2 separate regions of the Homo sapiens genome follow, and region 1 is linked to region 2. Evidence: fine-mapped expression QTL. Tissue or cell type: macrophages. Region 2 holds a variant in brackets; the other region holds the start of a gene. All regions are shown on one strand. Distances are between the middles of the regions.

Region 1 (8,107 bases), 59 kb before region 2:
GAGTCTTGACTTTCTGTAACTATAGTAAAATTGAAAAGAGTAATTGAGTACTGAAATTCCTGATAGGGTTGAGTCCTGTTAAGTGTTATAAAGAAACCCCCAAATTCATAACAACTGGATCAATCCTCATGATAAATGCCTCTGTGCTGGTCCTTTACATATACTGCAGAATTTGACTGACAGATGGAGCTCAAGAGCTCTTACTAGTCCACAAGCCCTGGGCTGAAACTCAAAATATGGAATCAAACTGACATTTATGTATCATGTTCAAGATGGTGTGATAGAATAAACAGTGCCTCGTAAGTGAGAAAAAAATATTTGGGTTCTATCTCTACCTTTCTGTTCCTAACTATCCACTTGATCATGGGCAATTCATATCATCCCTCTAGGCCTTTGTTTATACAGCTATAAGACAATGAGAAGGCCAGTAGCAGTGGCTCACGCCTCTAATCCCAGCACTTTGGGAGGACGAGGCAGGTGGATCACGAGGTCAAGAGATGGAGATCATCCTGGCCAACATGGTGAAACCCCATCTCTACTGATAATAACAAAAATTAGCTGGGCATGGTGGTGGGCATCTGTAGTCCCAGCTACTTGAGGGGCTGAGGTAGGAGAATGGCTTGAACCTGGGAGGCGGAGGTTGCCGTGAGTCGAGATCGCGCCACGGCACCTCCAGCCTGGGCAACAGAGCGAGACTGTCTCAAAAACAAACAAACAAACAAACAAACAAACAACAATGAAAAACAATGGGAAACTAGACTGTTTCTCAAAGCCTAGTCCTCAGACCATTTGTTTCAAAATCACCTAGGGTTGGCGGTGGGGTTTCTTATAAAAATACACATTCCTGGGCCCCAACATAGTCTTACTGAATCAGCATTTTTGGGGATGATCTCAGAAATTTTATTTTTTTGTTTTGAGACAGGGTCTCACTCTATCACCCAGGCCGGAGTGTAGTGGCACAGTCAGAGCTCAGTGCAGCCTCAACCTCCCGGGCTCAAGCAATCCTTTCACCTCAGCCTCCCCAGTAACTGGGACCACAGGTGCTCACCATCATGCCCAGTTAATTTTTGTATTTTTTTTTTTTGTAGAGATGGGGTTTCATCATGTTGCCCAGGCTAGTCTCGAACTTCTGGGCTCAAGTGATCCTCCCTCCTCCACTTCCCAAAGTGCTAGGATTACAGGAGTGAGCCATAGTGTCCAGCCTCAGAATGTTTTTAAAAGTAAGCTTCCGGCCAGGCGTGGTGGCTCACGCCTGTAATCCCAGCACTTTGGGAGGCCAAGGCCGGCAGATCACGAGGTCAGGAGATCAAGACCATCCTGGCTAACACGGTGAAACCCTGCCCCTACTAAAAATACAAAAAATTATCCGGGCGTGGTGGCGGGTGCCTGTAGTCCCAGCTATTCAGGAAGCTGAGGCAGGAGAATGGCGTGAACCAGGGAGGTGGAGCTTGCAGTGAGCCGAGATCACGCCACAGCAGCCTGGCCTGGGCGAAAGAGCGAGATTCCGTCTCAAAAAAAAAAAAAAAAAAAAAAAAAAGTAAGCTTCCTAGGTGATTCTTGGGCTTATTAAAGTTTCTTCTGTAAACTTTTTTTTTTAAAGTATAACACATTCATTAAACTTACAGGATTATAGGGTTAGAATATCTCTAAGGTCCCTTCCAACACCAAAGAATTCTAAGAATCAGTCCATTCAACATATTTTCCCATGGGCATGTTTAGTAAACATGCAACTCTGTGACAGACTGTAATTTTGCTTCATGTGCAAAGGTATCTCAGTGATTTGGAAAAACTGATTTTTTTTCAAATATGTGGCCTCCCTCAGAGGTCAGTTGACGGTCCAGAGAGTGCCTTAGGTCCACTGTAAAGTCTGGTTCACGTTTGAGTTTAATATAGAAATTCCCATATATTCTCTATGTAAACACATAGCTCTATGGCAGACAACTGTTAGCTGGGTGGGAAGAGGGTATCTGGTTGTAATTCTGACTTTATTGCAGAATCAAACTGTATTATGGTCATTTAATCCTGAACTTCTTTGTCAACAAAACTCCAAACCCTGTGACCTCCCTCTCAGGGGACCTGGGATACTAAAGTGATAAACAGAATTTAAATGCTTCCTGAAGTGGTACAAAGATCACTGTGTTAATAATTTCCCTCCAAGCAAGCTGGTAAAGTAATAGGCTTAGGAGAGTCTTCTAGTTACAAAGTAGTGAAGTTATCGCTTTTCTCAGGCAGCTAGAAATTAATGGGAATTTTCTTGAAAGGACCATCTCTTCCAAATAATTTAGCCACCTTTAAACTTGTCTTTTTTTTATTCTGTTTTTTGAGATGGAGTCTCACTCTGTCCCCCAGGCTGGAGTGCAGTGGCATGATCTCGGCTCACTGAAACCTCTGCCTCCTGGGTTCAGGTGATTCTCCTGCCTCAGCCTCCCAGGTAGTTGGGATTACAGGCACGCGCCACCATGCCCAGCTAATTTTTTTTTTTTTAGTCGAGACGGGGTTTTTGCTATGTTGGCCAGGCTAGTCTTGAACTCCTAACCTCAAGTGATCCACCTGCCTCGGCCTCCCAAAGTGCTGGGATTACAGGCTTGAGCCACTGCGCCCAGCCTAAAATTTGGCTTTCTGCTTTTAAACTTTTATACAAAGCCTATATTTTTTGGATTATTTATTTCATGCCACATGAAGCAGGTGTGTAAGATTCCTGGTTTCTCACAAGTGAATTAACCTTTCATCTTTCTGTAACCCGCTTAGCTTGCCTCAGTTTCCCCAGCTATGAAATGAAGGGGTAGAGCAAGTGGACACTTCATCCCTTCCAGCACACTTAACAGTTTACATCCATGCAGAGGAAAACAATAAGATGTAGGAAAGAGGCTGGGTGTGGTGGCTCACACCTGTAATCCCAGCACTTTGCGAGGCCAAGGTGGGTGGATCGCTTGATCTCAGGAGTTTGAGACCAGCCTGGGCAACATGGTGAAACCCTGTTTCTACCAAAAATAACAAAAAATTAGCTGGGCATGGTGGTGCATGCCTGTGGTCCCAGCTACTTGAGAGGCTGAGCTGGGAGGATCGCTTGAGCCTGGGAGGCAGAGGTTACAGTGAACTGAAATAGCGCCACTGCACTCCAGCCTGGGCAACAGAACGAGACTGTCAAAAAAAAAAAAAAAAAAGATGTAGGAAAGAGCATGGCTTCGAAGTTGGATAGAGCTAGGTTGGAATTTTAAGCCTCAGTTTTCTCAACTGTATAATGGTGGTGGTGGTGGTGGGGATAGTGATATGTTATCTCCCGGGGTAATAAAAGCATCTACTATAGGGCTTAGCACAGAAATGCATTCTAGAAAGCTGAGGCTCCTCGGCTCCCTCGACCCCTACCCTGTCACCCAGGTCTTTCAGCCCACTCCTGTGTAGGCCTCTTCTTACTGACTGAGAGAAGGAACCCTTGGTCCTTATTCAAGTGCAGAGACAAGCTCTCTGGGAGGGGAAAGCCATCAGCCCTGTGAGTAACAGGTTCTCTGTCACTTCCTGACCTTGTCATCACTTAAGTTACTGTTTCAAGTCTGGCTGAAATGTGGCAGGAGCTAACCACAGAACTGAAAGGGTCACTATTGTGATAGATGCAGTGGGGGCTCACAACGGTCCTGTAGCAGATCCCCAGTATCTTCTCCCTGGGGATCAGGTGGGGTCACCTTTGTTCTGCAGGGAGGGGACAGGATGCTAACAGCAGTTGAGAGCTGGAAGCAACATTGAAGCCTGCCTCATTAGAGAGGAGCAAACCAAGGGACAGAGAGGAGAAGTGACTTTCCCATGATCACACAGCCAGTCAAGCAGCAGAGGTGAGAAGAGCCCCTCTGGATCCACTAGAGTTCGCACTCAAGATCCTCTGCATTTTAATGCAGATGTTATAAGTATTGATTAAGAGCTTGGAATTTGGAGATAGATGGCTGGGCATGAGGCTTCACCTCTCAGGACCTCAGTGGTCTCATCTATAAAAGTCCTATAACAAAGCCTACCCATTGTGAGGATTAAAAACCACACTGCCTGTAGAGTGCTTAACACAGAACCTAGCACATTATCAGCTTCCACAACAGGTGGTCCTAAAAGATCATTATTTGCGATTCAAGGAAACACTGCCAACCTTTTTCTATACCTACAGTTCCGATCTGAACCTCCCTCTGCGAACCCCTTATGCCACGCTGTGGCTCGTCAGTCAAGGCGCCGAGAAGCCCTGGTGCCAGGGCAGGGCGATCCTCGGGGCTCACCTGGCGACACCAGCAGCACCTTCGCCCCGCAGCACTGGAAGCAGTGCAGCAGGGACTTCGCGCGGATGTTGTAATTGAGGCACGCCATGGCACAGCCCAGCTTCACCAGCCCCAGCCACAGCCACACGTAGGCCGGCTCGTTACCCATAAGGAGCGCCACGCAGTCTCCCTGGCGCAGGCCGAGGTGGTCGTGCAGCGCCCGGGCCACTTGATTGCTGCGCCGGTCCACCTGCGCGTAGGTGAGAGTCTCGTCGCGGAAGAGCAGAAAAGGCTTGTGTGGCGTCTGGCGCGCTTTCTCCAGGAACGCCCGCAGGATGGTGCGCGCCGGCCGCCGCTTCCCGTAGCTGCGCACCCTCCGGCCCACGGCGGCCACCTTCAAGAAGTAGCCTATGTCCTGGAAGAAGTATGGGCAGCAGAGGTTCACCAGGAGCGGCAGGAACAGCAGTCCCGCCAGGACTGTGTAGATGGCGGAAAGCATGACGGCTGCGGGGCCCTCTGTCCCAGCGAGGGCAGAGGGTTCACCCCGGGCGTGCAGCGCGGCGACTGGGCGGGCTCCGGGCGGACTGGCGGGCTGCGCCGGGGCGCACGCGGCGGGACGCCGGGCTCGCGTGAGATGAAGGGGAAGACAGAGCTCCTCCGCTGCAGGTACCGCCGCGGGCTCCGGAGCAGGTGTAGTCGTATGCGCGTTGCCGGGGGTTCCGGGCAGGACTGGCCGGCTGAGCCCGCCCCCTTGTGGGGGGCAGCCACCTGCTCTCCCGGCCCTCCCACGCGGTCCTCCCGGGGCTGGGCAGGCTGCCCTGCGGCTCACCAGGAGCCTCGGCCACTTCCCAGCTCGAGTCTGGAGGTCTGGGGTCAAGTCTGGACCTCCTCGCGTTGTGACCGAAGTACTTTACCTCTAGGAGCCACGGTTTCTTTAAATGGTGATGAGACGCGCTTAGCGGACGTTGGGAATATTAAAGGAGATATTGCAGGCGTGGGGCTATTATTTGTTACCACTAATAGAATGGCTTATGGAGATGACACTGTTATTACCGATAAAGTGCCTTATAAATGTCAGACAGTCCTATTATTTATTAATAGCGGGTACCAGGTGCCACTGCCAAACCAGAATCTCATCTCTCCTTCCTGGTCCCAAGGGCTTTCCGCCTGGTCTCTCTTTGTTTCTCAGATTTGCTTCCCAGCCCGACTGCCAGGCGGTCTCCTGTAGCGAAGGCTTCAAGGTTGAACAGAAATGCCTGTGGCAGTCACGTCCAGCTCATCCCAAGCCCTGCCAGGTGAGTGAGGGCAGGACACTCTAACCTAGTCGGCCCTGCCTGGTCGGGGGAGTCCTGATTTCGTGAAGAGCAGTGCTACACCGCACCACCTGAAATCAAGCTTTGACATTATTTTACGATTTTGTTCTGTTAAGTGATCCTGCTGTTCCCTCATGTTGAAAGTTGTCAAGTGTTGTCAGCACAGTTCACACATTTAATAAGTGGCTCTGTCAGAGAATAGTATAGTACAGAGGACATTGAGTAAGTGGTATTGGCATGACTCAAAAACCATTTCTTTTAGAGGAAATGTGAACCTTTCTTTTAATTTGCCTTAGTGCTACTTCTGTACGAAGTGAATGCTCACTACTTGCCACTGAGGAGGGTCAGGATCTAAGTAGTGTTTTATTTTCATCCTCTACTGTCCTCCTGTGTTCCTCTATCTTAATTTGATACGATAAATACAGATAATGCTTATTCCTCCCAGACACGCTGCTAGGAGCTTCCCTATGTTACATTTTGGGAGCCTGAGTTATTTTATACAGGTGGCACTTTCATGCTCATTTACAGACAAGAAAGGGAAGCTTAGGTGAATTGAGACAGCCGGTAAGTAATTCGTGGGTTTTGGAAATGGTATCTGTTTGGTCCCGGGGAACCAACTCTTAGCTTATTCTTAGTAACTATACTATGCTGTCCTCCTATTCTCTAGGTTTCTGTCCATGTCCTCTTTTTTTTTCGGTGTGTGTAAAACACACAAAAATGTTTCACATTCCCTCCAGGCCACCCCCTGCCGTTTTTTAGCCTCCTTTTCGTATCCCTAGTAACTGCGCAAGCAACCTTTCCCTTTTCCTGACTTTTTCATTTCTGATCCAGCTACCTGGTTGCATCATTTCCCTGGGGATGAGCTGGGGGCCTTCATCATCCCTGAGGAGAAAGCAGTAGAATTAACCAAAGTGAGGGCCCGACAGAAACCATTCTCATGTGCACTTCTTTCATGGTGAAGCTCAGAGCCAGCCCTTCCTTTTTCATCCCAATGCCACCCTCGTCCCTTGATGGCTAATCGCTTCTGTGTAGCCACCTGCACCCCTCTTCTCTTTTCCTTGAACAGCTACTGTCTACCCAGAGTGCTAGATTACCACAAGGGTCCACTTTTTCCCCTCTTATTCTGAGGATCACTTTAACCTCAGTTACAAGTAAAAGAAAACAAGACCCAAGCTAGCTGAAGCAGAAACAGGAATTTAAGTAGTAACTGGAGAGTCCGGGGCTAAGACATCAAGGATTTTAAATGCTGACACCTGGATCTAGTTTTGCTTTCACTATTTCTCCTCTGCACCTCCTCTGTTCTCATTCAGGCTCTCTGGTTTTTGTCCAAAGATGGCTGCCAACAGCCCTTAGGGGTACATGCTTTCTGGCTCAACTTCAGAGAGAAGTACAGGAATCTTTTTCTTAGGAGTTCTCATAAAAAAAAAAATCCCTGACTGGATTATGCGCCCATTTCTGAACCAATGTCTGTGGGTCCTGGGGAAAAAGGTGCTAGTTGTTTTAAGCCAATCAGCGCTCACCCATGGGGGTGAGAGTATAATCAATTTCACCTAGGCCATTTTGTGGAACGTTTTACGGTATTATTAAAAAGTGGGGTTAGGGAGAGTAAATTTGGGGAAGTAATTTTCAAATGTCTATAATATATACCTTGGGAGTCCCAGTGATTCCAGCTTTGAGCCTGGGATCCAGCTCTTGCTTTATCACGAGGTTAATAGATGTCTTAGTCTGTTTGGGCTGCTATAACAAAATACTGTAAGCTGGGTAGTTTATAAACAACAGAAATTTATTTCTCAGACTTCTGGAGGCAAGTCTAAGATCAAGGTGCCAGCAGATGTGGTGTTTGGTGAAGGGCTACTTTCTCACAGATGGTGCCTTCTCACTGTGTACTGTTTGGTAGAAGGGACAAATTACCTCTCTGGGGCCTGTTTTATGAGGGCACTAATCCCATTCATGAGGGCTCTGCCCTATGATCAAATTACTCCCCAAAGGCTCTACCTCCTAATACCATCACATTGAGGGTTAGGATTTCAATATATGAATTTTGTAGGGGACATGAACATTAAAACCACAGCAATAGTCTTCCTGGAAATATTGCTGCCATCTTATATCTCCACTGCTCAATTATCTTTAGTGGTTCCCCATTGCTTCCTATTGTCTTCCACCAATGACATCTATAGACAGTTGTACTTGTACAGCATACTAGAACATACCTGGCCTAGAGTTGACCAGATGCCCTGGCTTCTGCCTGACTCCTTTGAAAGGTGATCGATAGCTTAGCACGTTGGCTGCCCATTCTTGGTACATCTCTTGGGAACCTCTGGTCTATAAAATGAAATTTAAACTTTATTTTCTGGCTCTTCTGAATCTCACTCAAGCTTTCACTACACTCAATTGACAAATATTTATTGAGTTTCTGCTATGAACCAAACATTATTAGGTATTAAATATTTTAAAATGGACCAAAACTTAATTCTAACTGTTCCTTTTCAAGCGCACTTTGTTTTTAGCAAGTCTGGTCTGCACACTCCTAAAAATGCCCTGCACCTTCCTCTTTCTACTGGC
Region 2 (8,107 bases):
GGTGGGGATGTGTGCAGAACCACAGTGAGGCACACCTTGGTATTGTTCATCTGAAATTAATATTTCTTCAAAGACAGACCTTACTGGTGTTTGTTCCTCTCCCTATGTATAATGGGATATCTCTAGAGGACAGGATGGTCCTAGAGCTGCCTTGAACAGTTTTATCTCCCTCCTGCCATCCGATGCTTTAACCTCCTGCTCCAGTGCAGTCTTCTAGTTCTGTAGGATCAATTTCTTTGCAATCGGTATTATAGCACAAGCTGCAGCAGTTTATTTATCTAAGAGAGAATGCGTCTAGGTTGCTATCCTCAGAGATAGTGTGTATAAGGCAACATTTGAGGCCTCCATGACTCAATTCTTGCCTAATCTTTGCCTGGTCTCTGATCCATTAGGACCTAGAAATTACATTGACTGATATACTGAGATGATGGCAAACTCACCTTTGCTCTCCACATTCACGATTGCTGTGGGATGTATGTTTGTGACTCACTCAAGCCATTTAGAATGGAAGCCCAAGTCACAGTAGAGGAAGGCCATTGTTACTGAACTGAACATGGGTCAGTTAATCTGCCTGCCCATGCAGCAAAGCCAAATACTAACACTGGGATTGATTTGCAGTGAGGAAAAGTGAAGCATTTATTGCAGGGTGCTATGCAAGGAGAATTGGGCAGCTAATCTTAAAACCCAAACCCCTTGATGGCTTCCATGTAAGAGTTTTTAAAGGCAGGGAGGCAGAGGTTCCAGGCAGAGCCATAAATCAATACATGGAGGCTATTGGTTTGACCTAAAAAGGGGGAGACATCTTGAAGTGGGGGTCCACAGGTTACAGGTAGATTCAAAGATTTCCCGATCTGCGATTGGTTAAGATTTGTTTAAAAACTTGGGGTCAGCAGAAAGGAATGTTGAACTCTGGCCTGTAGGTATAACTTCTGCCAGGCCCCTCAGGAAGAAATTTAGAATGAAGAACAGTGGTCAGATTTCAGTCTCCAGTTCCCCCTTCCCCAAGGTCTGTTGTGCCAGTGGATGGTGTTTTCCATTTGGTGGCGGGGGGGTGTGGGGGCTGTGGGCAGGTTTCTGCAAAACAGCTCAGGGACATATGTTAAGATGTTATTTTTAGTTTCTATTGGGACTCTAACTTCTTTGGCTATTGTTTCAAGCTATTATTACCTCCTTGCTTATCAGATTGCCTGCCACCCTCCACCAAGCATGGAAATAAAGGAAAATCTTGCGTTTCTTCAATGGAAATTCCAGGCACCTAGCTAGTCCTGAGAATTAAATGAGCAACTTGATAAGTAAGAGAGTAATAGTAGCTTAAAATAATAGCTAAAGAAGTTATAGTCATAAGATGTTTGGTTCTCTACAGAAGCTAAAGATAACATCTTGACATATGACCCTGAGTTTACTTTTCAGAAACTCGGACCTCCACCAAATGGAAATCTTTCTTGCACAAGGTCCAGGAACCTTCTCTTGGGATCTGGATTGGGATCCCTTTCCAGTAACAATATCAGGTCATCGGGACATTTCCTGGGTCTGTTCAGTAAACATTATTAACCTGTTCCCTTAACTGAAACTGTGTCTAAGAATGACTAATCTTCTGGGAATGTAAGATGGAGTTGCTCTGGTTCAAAGGCCTTGGACGCCTCTGACAGTATTAGTGAAGTGTTTTTTTTTTTTTTTTGGACTGTTAGCTTGTTAGGAACTAACAAGACCCTCCCTAACTCATCTACTCATCTTTCAGGACTCAGCTTCACTTGTTCTGAGGGTTTCCCGTGACACCTCCACACCCACACTGAAATATGGCTTCCCCTCTCCTGTAGTTCCGAAGCCTGTTTGGACAAGGGACACCTAAATTAGAGTTACTATCACATTGTGTCACAATTTGTTCACAACTATTTTCTCTTCCACTAGAAGGATTCTTGTTAGGGCAGATATCGACCTAAAAGAAAGAATCCCAGGCAAAATAGATATAACTAGAGGGTTTATTTGGGCCAAGCTTGAGGATTGCAACCTGGGAGCATAGATTCAGTTTTCTGCAGTTACAAGCTGTAGCAGCAGTTACAAGCAGGTTTTTAAAGAAAAGAAGAGGCAGTTTCTAAGTTGTTTACCAAGAATTTACATTAAAAATAACATAAGTTATTGATTGGCTATATGTTGTTTCTTTGTATTAAAATTCCAGGAACATGAAGATAATAGGTGAGGCAGGTAGTCAGGAACAAAATGCCTTTAAACAATTGCCCCCACAGATGGGTTTGGGGGTCACATGACTGAAATCTTAGACTCCTGTCTTTTTGGGCCTGATAAATTTTTCGAACCTCCCGTAGTGCAGACTGCTCTGAGCTATTTTTCTGTTCTCACAGAGACCAGGTCTCAGTTACCTTGGGGTCCCCAATGCCTTGCAGAGGGGTTGATACAGAATTGGGGCTTGGAAAATGGTGAAGAATGTGTGAAATGTCCCAGAGACATGTCCTGATTAAGAGCCTGAACTCCTTTGATCTTGGACCCTACACTTCCCAAGTGTCATATAAGGGGTAGGAAATTTTCACACCCAGTGACCTGGAGGACAGACTAAAAGGGTAAAGAGATGAAGAGCAGAGCGTCTCTTCTCATTGGGATGACAGTTTGCTAAGGAGAAAATGGGGCTGGAGTGAGTGTTAAAAGACCCTAAGTGTCTGGCTGCTCCTTGGGTCTTGGAGATTCTGAGATAACAAGAACCATGTAGCCCTGAAACTGATCCAGATCGGGTTCATTGTTCTACTACTCCTTTCTTGTAAATGCCCTGATTGTTGGAAGGACTTCTTATGATGTCAGTCTATAAAAAAGCGGAGGCCAAAAGTCTTTACTGGATACCCATTATGTGCAAAGAAGATACTATACTCCCCTGATAGCAAGAGATACATTATTTTAGGGAGTGTTTCTCTTGCTGATGCCAACAGCCTATTCCAGGATCCAGTTTTGGCTGTGGAGCATTCATCACTTGGAAATGAATTGTTAGAATGACTTTTACAACTAGAGTTGCCAATAGTCTGGCTTGGTGTTAGGCTGTCTGGTTTAAAGCTGGGTCATCTAGTTCTGGAACACATGGTTCAGATAGTATTTGAAAGGGCAAATTAAATGCAAATCACCTGGTTTTGGTGAGTGGGCTTGCATAACAACAAGCCCTGTAGGATCTATTGTTCTTGCTTGTGTCTGAGTGTCTGCACTGAAAGGGATATTCAGGAGAGCCCTTGAGGGAAAGTCCAGATCACTGTCAGGAGCTGGTTCCCAGAGGTGACATTTAGCACCCATAAATTTAGGTATCTTTTTTTTTCTTTTTAAAAATCTTACCAGCTTAATTGTAATGTAGTGGTGGATTTATATTACTTTAAGTTTAATTCCTGAAATTTTATTAGTAGAGTAGAAAAGTCCTCTACTTCTAAATCCGGGTCTCTATCTGTGGCTTAACTTCTAACTTCTTGTTTGCATTCTCTTATTCTCTTTTTGTTCTTTTCATGAGTTAGTTGAGTAATAAGTAAAACTTAATTGTGAGTCTTTTCATGGAGGATGGAAAATCCCACACAGGAAAGG[G/A]CACTACCAACAATGGGTCAGTCGTTTATGTTGGCCAATGTAAAGAAACCTCCTTTATTTCATAAAAGGTTAAGTAATTGGTGGGGAAATTGGGGTGGGGGAGGAGTTGAGTTACCTTCTCTTGGTGAACTTCGGCCCAATACACAGTGGAAAGTGCCAGATAATAAATGAAACTACAAGAGGTTAGAAAACTATACTTTCTTTTTAGATATTAAAGGCTATGAGGGCATATGTTACTTCAAAGACTTGTTGGATCTGTTTTTGAATGGGAGGCAAATTGGTTTCAATCACTAGAGAGAAGGGGGCGTGGTGGCCCAGGAACATTATTAGTGTACTGTACTCCTGTCACCTGCTGAGGTAAGGAGGTTCTGAATAACTGCTCTGGGGTGCAGGAAGAAAATACTAAAACTTTGAATTATCTTTATTGATATCATCCCTTTAAAATGTCTGTTTATGCTGTTTTATGGTGTATGGAAAGGATATGCTTGGGGAATACTGCCCTAGAGAGAGGAGAAGACAGATGGTTGGATCAGGATGAAAAAAACTGGAGATGTGGAGTAGCTCAGAATTCAAAGGTCTCATAACTGCCCAGTGGGTTCTCATTGCCTGCTGCCTGGACAGAGCCAATTTATTAAGACAGGGGAATTGCAACAGAGAAAGAGTTTAATTTACACAGAGGCAGCTGTATGGGAGACAGGAGTTTTATTATTACTCAAATCAGTCTCCCTGAAAATTTGGGGATTGGGGTTTTTAAGGATAATTTTGTGGGTAGGGGGTCAGAAAGTGGGGAATGCTGATTGGTCGAGTTGAAGATGAAATCACAGGAGGTTGAACTGGGTTTTCCTTGCTGTCTTCTGTTCCTGGTTAATTCTGTAAACCATTCAGGAGCAATATGGGGAGGTTCAGAATCTTGCAGCCTCTGGCTGCATGACTCCTAAGCCATAATTTTTAATCCTGTAGCTAATTTGTTAGTCCTACAAAGGCAGACTGGTCCCTAGGTAAGAAGGGGGTTTGTTTGGGGAAGGGCTGTTACCATCTTTGTTGCAAAGTTAAACTATAAACTAAATTTTTCCCAAAGTTAGTTCAGCCTATGCCCAGGAATGACAAGGACAGCTTGGAGGTTAGAAGCAAGATGGAGTCAGTTAGGTCAGATGTCTTTCACTGTCATAATCTTCTCACTGTTATAATTTTTGCAAAGGTGGCTTCAGTCTCCTATCTGTTCTGATAAAGAAAATGTAGTCGCATTTGGATTCTGGAGAGATAGTAAAGAAGATACTGACCTTTGTTAGACAATGGCTTATGTGACAGGTGCTGGGTTGTGTGCTATTTATTCTTATTCTATCACTGCATATACAATTTTCATATGAATGCATACTTTTATCCATTTGTTATTTATTTAATGAATATCTCATTTAATCTTCACAAACAGCTTGAGAAGAAGGTTTTAATCTTCCCAATTTTGCAACCAGGAAGTTAAGGCTTAAGGTGGGTGAGTAATTTACACAATGTTCTATGATTTACACTTCAGCAATTCTCATTCTTTAGTGAGTAGGTTTGCAGTGTAGACTCCAGTGTAGACTTTAGGAGATTCAAGTGGGCTTCTAGTCTGCTTGGAGCAGGTGGATAGTTCAAGAATATGCTTATAGAATTATGAAATACTTTGTTCTGATTTTCTTTCATTATTTAGTGCATATTCCCAAATTGCAATTTTAGGCCAGAGCTACTTCTCTGCTGTTTAGGCTGACACCAAGGACTTGGTTTGACATTTCAATCAACTCAATCTTCCCTTGTTGGCCTTAAAAGCAAGCAAGCAAACAAACAGACAAACACAACAAAACCTAAAACTTCTGTTATGACTAAATTCCAGGTAATCAATTAAATCTTAATTTATTTTATTGTTATTAAATTGAATTGACATAAAGTGACTAAATCTACTATTTGTCAATCCCATTCTCAATGTCAGAGACTTAAATTGCAGAATCTCCTCATCTGCACATCTGATTCCTTCCAGCAGCTGATAAGCATCACAGGAGCAGGAATCATATTTTGTTCATCTTTTCTATGTCCCACAAAGTGTCTAGCAGAGTATTTGCATTTGTTGAATGAAAATATGTTAGATCAATTTCTTCCAACTGTAGATTTCAAACTATAGGCCAGGCCATCCCACTTGTTACAGGTAGTTAATCTGTTTATCTAAAACCATAATTCATTGGCTTTCTTAGCTATCTTGGCAGTTAGGCAAGAGATATTTACAGGTTCTAAGAAACATAAGATGCTATTTATTCCGTTGTATATTAGACTTATAGTTGTGTGGTTTCAGATTCTTAAGAATAAAAATTTCCATCTCTTCGTTTTGATGAAATGTGTGTAAAGTTGGAGAACAAGGTAAAAGAGTGAGTAAATTCAGAATTCTTTTTTTCTCTCAAATGCTCAGATACTTAATTAAAATTCCTTTAATATGATCACGAGATTTTTGTCAGGACAAGTTGAGATGATCCTTGAGAAAGCACTTTGAAAACTCTAGACTACAGACATAAAGGACGTTTGTCAAAAGTAAGGCTTTAAAACAAAATAAGGCCTCTTGAAAACACAGACCTGGCGTTCTGACAGTGCACATACTGCCTAATAGGGATGAAAGTTTAAGCTCTGTTTAGCTACCTTTGTATAATGGGAATAAAAGGTTTTTTTTTTCTTGTATCCTAAATCGAGAATTTAAACTGTTTTCTGATTAGCAAGGGTTTGCAGTCACACTAGTAATAGTCCTCTATAAGATGGACATCCTTCTCTGTTCCCCGTCTTTCTACTCCTTATGAAGAAAAAGTAGAAATTTTTGAAAAAGTTGTGCTAGGTATACATAACATGACATTTATCATTTTAACTACCTTTAAGTGTACAGTTCAGTGGCTTTAAGTACATTCACAGTGTTGTATAACTATCACCATTATCCATCTCCAGGACTTTTCCATCATCCCAATCTGAAACCCTGTACCCATTAAACAATACCTTCCCATACTCTCTTCCTGCAGCCCTTGGTAGCCTCTACTCTTTCTGTCTCTGTGAATTCACCTATTCTTCTTGCTGAGCCTTGCTGTTATCATTATTCATTCGACATTATTCATTATTCATGAGTGCTTATTATGGACACCAGGAGTTCAACAGTAAACAAAAGTCCCTGCTCTCAAGGAGCTTTTATTTTAGTGGGAGGGAGACAATAAACAGCGAGCACATTTAAAATATTTTTTAAAAATGAGATTATCTTATACACAATTCTTCTGCAACTTGATCTTTTCACTTGACAGTACATCTTGGACATCTTTTTCTATGTCAGTCTGAAGAGGCCTATCTCTTATTTATAATAGCTAAATTTATTGAGTCTCTACTTTGCTCCAGGCACTGTTTTAGTTGCAACAATCCTATGAGGTAAGTTCTATAATGATCATCTTTTTACAGATGGCCCAGATAAGTGTAGGAGCTTGCATAGTCACCTGGCCAGTCACTGGTGGAGACAGAACTAAACTCAGATGACCTGATTCCTTACTCCAATTCTACCCTCTTTTGAATGGCTACATAGTACTCTTTTGTATCAATATACCTTAACTTATTTAGGCAGTCTCTTATATGTAAGCCATTTTTAGGTGTTTTTTTGTTGTTGCTATCATAGTGCTATAATTAACATATTTAGAGATATGTTTGCACGTGTGTGTGGTTTTCTATAAGGTAAATTCCTAAGAAATAAAAACACATACACATTTCAATACTTGATAGGCACTACTATACTCAGTTTCCTTTAAAAAATATTTTACCAATTTATATTCCCACTAACAGTATAGGAAAAGGAAAAGGCCCTGATTTCCTTATATCTTCTTTAACAAAGGGAATTACCAAACTTATATTTGCCCCATATGATAGGTTTAAAAATGGTATAGAGGTGATACTTAAAAATGTTTTTCACTTAAAAGTGTTTTTTATTTTAAATATTTTAAAGAGATGATTGCTTCCTGCTCTAAGCTGTTCTTGGTCCTCTTTTATCATGTAAGAAAGAAAGCCATCTCTCTTATTTCCAGAAATCTGTAGTTTCTTGTTACTGTGGAACCTTGGTAGGAAAAGGCCCTTGTTTCTGTGAAAACCTGAGGGCCCAGCGTGAGGATGTTCCAGGAGAGTGGAGTTGATGGTGCGCAGGGGATTAGCTTGCTCTGGTTATAGAGACATGATTAAAATCTATTTGATTTCAGTACTTAACTGGCAAATCTGATGCAACTTCTGGAAAATTCCTAGATGGCTTTAGGCATATTTAAAAGAAGCCATATTTTTCCTTTTAAAAATAGATATGCACCAAAATATTTTATTTTCATCTAATCCCGCTTTAACAACCAGAATCCCCTTAAAAGCAATTCCAAACTAAAAGATGTAAATCCATTTCCTATGTGCATTTGTTCTTTGGTACCATCAGGGTTAATGTTTGCATCCTCTGTGCTGAAATTAAGGATGTTGGGAAAGAAGTGTCATTGCTTTGCCTACTAAATGTCACTTGAGTATGCTTAGC

Direction of the effects. Positions count from the first base shown, and alleles are read on the strand shown. Sizes are in standard deviations (SD) of each study's normalised expression.
For the expression in macrophages of the gene that starts at base 4,963 in region 1, G is the low allele of the variant in region 2 and A is the other (moderate effect, 0.52 SD a copy in Alasoo 2018).

The links. PIP is the estimated chance that this variant, and not a neighbour inherited with it, causes the effect.
Region 1: SLC27A2 starts here. The variant in region 2 is fine-mapped to the expression of SLC27A2 in macrophages (Alasoo 2018, PIP 0.95).

Annotation. Positions count from the first base shown.
Region 1 is chr15:50,179,052-50,187,158 of GRCh38, reverse strand. It overlaps SLC27A2 (solute carrier family 27 member 2), which reads right to left and starts at 4,963. Exons shown (of 10, transcript NM_003645.4): 1 at 4,254-4,963. The coding sequence starts at 4,731. It also overlaps a transcript of ATP8B4 not described here. RefSeq lists silencers at 4,362-4,461, 4,732-5,071.
Region 2 is chr15:50,119,812-50,127,918 of GRCh38, reverse strand. It overlaps a transcript of ATP8B4 not described here. Among named protein-coding and RNA genes, the nearest start is that of ATP8B4, 4.6 kb to the right of the region's middle. The variant G/A (reference allele first, on the strand shown) is at 3,565.